Linked DNA regions of Homo sapiens. The protein of the gene in region 1 purifies or fractionates together with the protein of each later gene. This does not show direct contact. Each region holds a gene or a part of one and is shown in the gene's direction. Other genes may lie near its edges.

What was found.
Region 2: the proteins of GPR39 (region 1) and SLC39A12 purify together in Homo sapiens (co-immunoprecipitation; one large-scale study listed by IntAct). This does not show direct contact.

Annotation. Positions count from the first base shown.
Region 1 is NC_000002.12:132,643,497-132,647,097, forward strand, and holds the end of GPR39 (G-protein coupled receptor 39), read left to right. Parts: exon of another isoform or gene 1-1,604; coding exon 1,605-2,110; 3' UTR 2,111-2,548; coding exon of another isoform or gene 2,549-2,784; 3' UTR 2,785-3,086; downstream 3,087-3,601. Other genes in the region: LYPD1 (ly6/PLAUR domain-containing protein 1), read right to left, coding at 2,549-2,784. UniProt on the Homo sapiens protein: Zinc-sensing receptor that can sense changes in extracellular Zn(2+), mediate Zn(2+) signal transmission, and participates in the regulation of numerous physiological processes including glucose homeostasis regulation, gastrointestinal mobility, hormone secretion and cell death.
Region 2 is NC_000010.11:17,954,761-17,958,583, forward strand, and holds part of SLC39A12 (zinc transporter ZIP12 isoform 1 precursor), read left to right. Parts: intron 1-3,823. UniProt on the Homo sapiens protein: Uniporter that promotes Zn(2+) import from the extracellular space to the cytoplasm across the cell membrane. The transport activity is temperature dependent. May play a role in neurulation and neurite extension.

The DNA of each region.
Region 1 (3,601 bases):
GCTGTTTTTTCCTGGAGCATTTATTTATTGGTTTATTGAGACAGTTTCACTCTGTCAGCCAGGCTGGAGTGCAGTGGCACATTCGTGTCTCACTGTAGCCTTCACCTCCTGGGCTCAAGTGATCCTCCCGCCTCAGCCCCCAAAAAGTATCTGAGACCACAGGTGTGTATGTACCACCATGCCTGGCTAAGTTTTTCTTTTTTTGTAGAGATGGGGTCTTGCTATGTTGCCTAGGTGGGTCTCAAATTTCTAGGCTTAAGTGATCCTTCTGCCTTGGCCTCCCAGAGTATTGAGATATCAGGCATGCGCCACCATGTCTGGCCCCCATTTATTAATAGAATATTTACCATGGGTCATAGGCAGGAAGCATTCATTGCCAACTGTCACTTCCCTAGGGTTTCTAGAAAATCAGAAGATTGAAAATGTGAGTAAATGTTTCTTACTACGATTGAAATGTAGGAGAGGAAGGAAGCATTTCTGAAAATGCAAATCCTGCTTTAAGGTAGCAGCTCTCTACAGGGGAATTTACTGTGGGTGTCTTGGCTCCTTACGAAAAGAGAGAGCAAATGCTTCACAGATCCCCTGATCTTCCTTTGTTCTTTTTTGCTTTTGTCACTGTAACTAAACTCTCATGATACCTGTGATTTCAGTTGTTTGTGGTCTATGTAGCATCTTTATCTCTGTCAGTCAGAATTGCAGAACTGGTGGTGGTTACTTAAGTTGGAATACAAATATGTGGGCATGCAAACAAATGTACATGCAGTAAACATTTGATCTACAGAAGGGCCTTTGAGTGGTCTCTTCTCTAGGGCCTGATTGCTTCTGGGCTGTTGACAGCACAGCTCAGTGCTGCAAAGGAAGGGAACATGTTACTGGCTGAACTAGAAGGAAGTTTTATATTTGCCATCTCTGAATAATTCTTTTTCCCCACATGAGGGATCTAAAAGTGTCTGAAAAGAAACACATATGCTGTTGCAGATATGAGCATCATGATTATAGGTGTGCATACCTAGTATGTATATGTCCAAAAAACATTCTTGGCGACAGGCTATTCCTGACTTTGCTTCCCCTGAAACTGAATGCAAAACCAGTGTCATTAAATATGCTGCTTTGTTGCCAAAGGGACACTTCTTCCATTTGATTTAAAAATATCACTAGGTCTTCTTTGTGCAGACATCCTTTAAAATACAAACACTGCTTTATCTAATGCAGCTATACTGTATGTATACATCTTTTTCTTTAAAACAAAAAAAGACAAAACCAGATTTATGGATAACATGAACTGCTTTCTGGATACGCAAACAAACACCAATGAAAACATTTTTTTAAAATTAACAGACATCAACTGGTATAAATACACTGTCTAAAGCATTTAATGGTCTTTCTTTAACACAGCCAACTCCCCCGGGTTTGAAACAGTGTTAAATTCTCTCTTGCTTGTGGCAAAAGAAGCTGTCAAGTCCAACACTGAAAAATTGGTACCATTTCCTGGCCAGTAAGCACAGAACAGAGGGGCTAAATATTTTATGGTTTTATTCATTTACTGTGTTCTCATGCTGTGTTTTTCTTTTCTCTGTCTCTCCCTCCTGCTCGTGTCTGCCCAGGGCTGATTGTTGTGACATTGGCCGTATGCTGGATGCCCAACCAGATTCGGAGGATCATGGCTGCGGCCAAACCCAAGCACGACTGGACGAGGTCCTACTTCCGGGCGTACATGATCCTCCTCCCCTTCTCGGAGACGTTTTTCTACCTCAGCTCGGTCATCAACCCGCTCCTGTACACGGTGTCCTCGCAGCAGTTTCGGCGGGTGTTCGTGCAGGTGCTGTGCTGCCGCCTGTCGCTGCAGCACGCCAACCACGAGAAGCGCCTGCGCGTACATGCGCACTCCACCACCGACAGCGCCCGCTTTGTGCAGCGCCCGTTGCTCTTCGCGTCCCGGCGCCAGTCCTCTGCAAGGAGAACTGAGAAGATTTTCTTAAGCACTTTTCAGAGCGAGGCCGAGCCCCAGTCTAAGTCCCAGTCATTGAGTCTCGAGTCACTAGAGCCCAACTCAGGCGCGAAACCAGCCAATTCTGCTGCAGAGAATGGTTTTCAGGAGCATGAAGTTTGAATGTCAAGCGAGGGAGCCTTGAGTGGGAACTGGCCCTCCAGCCCTAAGAAAACGTCACTCTCACTCTGCAGTCTCAAACTATGCCCCCATCAGGGATGGAATGGACACTGGAGGCTTTACAAAAGGCAGATGCCCACCTCAGTGACTTCTAAGGACTGACTCTGCCAGCCTGGCCTTGACTCCGGTTACACAGACATGGGGGTGAACTTTCACTCCACCTCCTTCCTTCAAGTACATACTGAAAATTCAGTCAGGCTGAATTTATTCAGAATGCTTTACCGAGCTCTTTCATTATTTGCACAGGAACAAAAGAGAACACGGACTCCCGCTCCCTACCCAGAATAAAAGGACACCCAGAAGAAACTCACTCAGGGAGGTGGGGGGTTGGGGGCGAGGGCTGGAAGAACAATGCAGGAGGGGGTGGCATCTCCTTCAGCTTCAGCAGTGTGCCGAGAAGAGGGCTAATTTGAGGAACAGGATGGTGGTGCGGAGCCCTGGCCTGAGGGCCGAGGCAGAACTTCCCCTTTTCTTGGGCCTTGGCCCGTTACAAAGAGGGGTGTTGCAGCAGCTGATGCAAACTGAGTTCAGTTTCCCTGGGGAGCAGAAGGACTGGTACCCGGCAGAGGCGATGAGACAGGCCGCTGATGATGCACAGGACTTGCGGTACATGATCCCTGTAACACAGACCCAAAGGAGCTGAGTTAACGTGCACCGGCAAAAGAATAGCTGTCCCTCTCAGCCCAAATCCAAACGGACAGCTCTTCCTTACTCCTCCCACAGCCCAGAGACTAGGTGAGGTCAGGGAAGTGCTTCGGATTGTCTCATTGATATTCAAGATAGATGGTGAAAGAGACAGGCACTATTTCATTAGTTTTAACAAAACTGTTCCAAAAGCGATTTGAGATGCCAATACCTGTGAATACCTGTTAATAAAGAGCTGTTAAATAGACTTATTTACATTTTAAGTCAGAGTTCACACTGTGTACAAGACACAGCTTTTTATTTACTTTGTTTTTGGTTCAAACTGTCTCATGCCAGTGAGGCCCACAAGCAGTGCTTCTAGATTTTATCTCATTTTGCTTTATAAGCGGCCACAGAGCGCTGGCTCTCAACTATGTGTTGATGAAATCCTGGAGTTCTTTGAAGACAGACCAAATCCCGAAGGGAAATAAATGTATCCCTACTGAATGGGCCCTGAGTTTTCCACGGGATTTAGTGAAGGGGCACCTGGCTGACCGTGTGTCCCTCACAGTCTTATTCTAAGGAGAAACGCTCTGTCGTCAGGACACATGGCCATCTGCCAAGCCAGTACCACGCAGCTAGCACTCAATGACACACACTGGGTGCAAAAAAAAGCTTCCCAAGAAGACTAGGGGGCCTGTCTCAAAGAGCATGTGTGTCCTGTCAAGCTGCAGTATAGTCAGTCATCAAATTAGGGTGTCTTAATCATAAGGTGGAAGTTTATTCAATTCAAATAATACTAGCTAAACT
Region 2 (3,823 bases), on another chromosome or scaffold:
ACAAAAGCTAACAACCGTCTCCAAAATACATTTTGGCAGACTTTCTCAATCATGCAGAGGCGAGGGAGGGAGGGGAGGGGAACATTTTCTGACCAAGTGTTTTGTTTTTTCATAACAGAAGAGTTCTTGCTCATAGAGAATTTTTCTCTGCTTTGTGTGAGCAATAAATAATTCAATAATTATTAAAATACCCAATGGTTCCCAGAGGAAATGTGTTATAATAGGCAACTCATCTGTGATGACATTAATATATATAGATGGCAACACAAGATGTCCCACTGGAAATAACCAGAAGTCATCTCTTATTCATGTCCTCTGAGGATTCGCTTCAGGGGAATGTTCTCCTTTAATGACGTGAAGTGCCTTATTAAGGCTGGTTGAATAGTAGTTTTGCCAGGGGGGAAGGTAAATATGCAAAATTGTTCTCCATTTTCAGGGCTGGGGGAAGGATTGTTTAGCACTTACTGTTTTCTGTGACAGTATCAGGAGTTTAGCCAATTTGGTCCCCATTTGAATCAGTTCCATTCCTAGGACTTGAAACACCATCTTAAATAGCTTCACCCTCCTTCTCTGTGAAAGAAAGGCAGGTGAAGCAGAAGTGAGTCTCAGCTTTACCTACTCAGAAGGCTTCAGTTCACCCCAATCACCCATCAGGAAGGAGCTTAGGAAATGTCTCCCATCATTCATGAAAAGAGGGAGGAAACAGAGTCCTCTGAATTTCACAAACACGCGGGTTCTGGCGCGAACCACAGAGCTTCAGCTTGTGGCCGAGTCTGTTCTGTCATCTGAGGGACTTTGTCTGCTGACAGGCAGGGTTCATGCTACAAATTCTATCGTAAAAAGAGAGGTTAAGGGGGTTTCTTCATATCCCTAAATGTCTGAAAAAAGAGGGAAGTAGGTATCTTGAATTTGTTGGGAGTAAAAATGCTTCCAATTTTACGTCTGTATAAAAAGTGAATTTTTTAAAAAGCCAATGTGAAGTATCTGAGAGCATTGCACATTTAAAATAAATTCAGTCAAGCTGCAGTCTTTGAAAATGAATAGTTCTGGGCTGATCCTGGCTTTTTCTTTCTTTAATGAGAAGGGGTAGAATATAGTTTTAATGAACATCGTGAGAGATTAAATAACTCCAAAACAATACATTCTACTTCAATAATTATGAGAACCATAACCCTACACATGTTTCTGAAAGGAAAAGGGCCCTTTTCTGGCACCTTCTAGTGTTGAGACATGTGGAGCCTCAGCTTCCTCACCCTGAAGGCTGGGATAATGAGCCCCTCCTCAGGGAGGTCTGTGAGGACCACATGGACAAACACATGTTCCTCAGGCGCCAGATGTCTGTGAGGGTCAAATGGATATATATGTGCCCCTGAGGGAGATATCTGTGAAAATCACACGGACATGTGTGCTCCCCGGGGAGATCTCTGCAAGGATCACATGGACACATATGCCCTCAGGGATCAAATCTCTGAGAATCATGTGGACATAGATGTATTATGTCCCAGGAAGATCTCTGTGGATCTCATGGACATGTGCTCCTCAGGGAGATCTCTGTGGGGATCCCATGGACATACATGTTCTTAGGAATCAGATCTCTGAGGATCTCATGGACATACATGTACTTCTTAGGAATCAGATCTCTGAGGATCTCATGGATATACATGTTCTCCTTAGGAATCAGATCTCTGAGGATCTCATGGACATACATGTTCTCCTTAGGAATCAGATCTCTCAGGATCTCATGGACACATATGCAGAAAGTCAGATATAGGAGCTCAAGTTCCTTCTGTTCCCTGTGCCTCACAGCAATGTCTGATTCCTCCTTTTCCAGGGACACTAGAGCAGCGCCATTCCTCAGAATCTCCCACCCACCTGTGTCCCAGGCTCCCCTCCACTGTCCTTGATTCTGAGGATTTTAAACGAAGTTCTCCAGGCAATTCTTAGACACATTCAAAGCAGAGAACCACTGCTTTAAGGGTCTCCATTTAATTCACACCTGGCCCTAGCCCCTGACATAACTGTCATGGAATAAAGTGTGGAAAACACCCAGCTTTGTCTTATTATCTAACAATTTCATCTTAACTCTTCTCAGTTAAAAACTTCTTGTCAGTCAGAAGACCCACTAAATCTAGTACAGACCCTAAAGAGCCAGTACCTGCCATCGGCAACATCCTTCCAGCTCTTTGTCAGGAAAAAAACACATACACGTTCTCTCTTATATTTACAATCAATTGTTAGCCACCCCCCACCTCCGGAAAAGAAAAAAACACCTTATAGAAACCTGAGAACTTAAAAGAGACTGTCTTCTTTTAAGTTCTCAAGTTTCTATAATATAAAATTTCCCATTGTTTAAAATCAAATGTTAAACATCTTTCAGTCTAAAACCCCTAAAGTTTATCCTGGAGGCCTGACAGCTGTCTTACTGATGTAGGAGAAGACAGCTACCAAGTTGTTTTTTGTCAGCTGAGGCTCTCACCTGGCATAGATCATAAGCAAAGCTGAATTTCAAGGCTGGGTGAGACCATGTGATGTGGCTCCAGGATGTGGTGGACAATTACTACCAAGTGTCCGAGTAGCCTGTTTAGCTTGAAAGGGGAGCCTCTCCTTGCATTTTAATCAGTCTTTTCCCAAAGTTTATTTCCTTATAAAGTCATTAAAACTAATTCCCAGAATTTATGAGATTCCCCCCGCCCCAAACCTTTTTCCCCCACCTGACAAGATTAAAAGGAAAATCAATGGATTATTCCTGAATGAGTCCATTCTTCTTAAACAAAGAATTGCTTCACCAGAGGCAGCAGCCTTGGACAGATCTTGATGCCTGTGGGGTGGCAGTATTTGCGACATTTTGCTAAATATCCTCTCCCAAACACAACTGAGCCAACTTCTAAAAACATTAACAACAAAACAAATCTAGTGGCGTCGAACTGAAAATTCCAGCTCTGTCCTCATCCAACAGCCCCAGTAGAGCTTTTTGTCATATCTATGTCCAGGGGAAGAATTCTTATTTTATGTTAGCTTTTCTGAGGCTTCCACCTGTATTCTTTCCTCAAGCCACAGCCTTCTGTATTAAAATAAATTCTTTACGATTCAAATATTATAAAAGGGAGGAAGGTTTCCAGCCCGTGGTCATTTGATTCACAATTAAGCTTTGATTTAGCAGGCCTCAAAAAATCAAAGCAAATGTGATGCAACACGTGTTCATTCAAGGTTACCAAAATCTCTGTTCCGACAAAAGAAGATGCTTCTACAGCTGTTTCAAGCTTTCCAAAGCCAGAAACCAATTGTACCTTCCATATTGTATGCCTTTTATACACAGTTGTGGAATGCCTACCCACACGATTATAGTGCGGACCCTGCTCTCTGCTGTTCCGTGCCTTGCATTCCAATTCCAACCCTGGAAAGATACATGGCAAAGACACTGAGGAAGAATGATGCATGGACAGGAGTCTCCGCATCTCAGATGGGTTGAAATATGGTCACATGTTCTGCCATGTGCTCATACACCAAGCCCTGCCCTGGTCTCATGGCCCCATGAGCGTCCTACTCCTTGCATCATAGACATTCTTCTTCCTACCTACCCAGCCCCATCAAACAACCTGAGTAGCACTTGAAAGTATAACATAAACTCATTCAACGCTCTCGTTGTACCATGTCCTTGTTCTGATTGATGTTAGACTTGGACCAATCTCTTAGCCACCTAACTGACCTCTACTCCCATCAAATAGGAGGGAGAGAAAAATTACCGGTCAAAGTGGTTGCCTAACAAGTACATCAGTGGGTCCACAGCCTGTGTTCTCCATGGCACAAAAGGAAGGAATAAAAG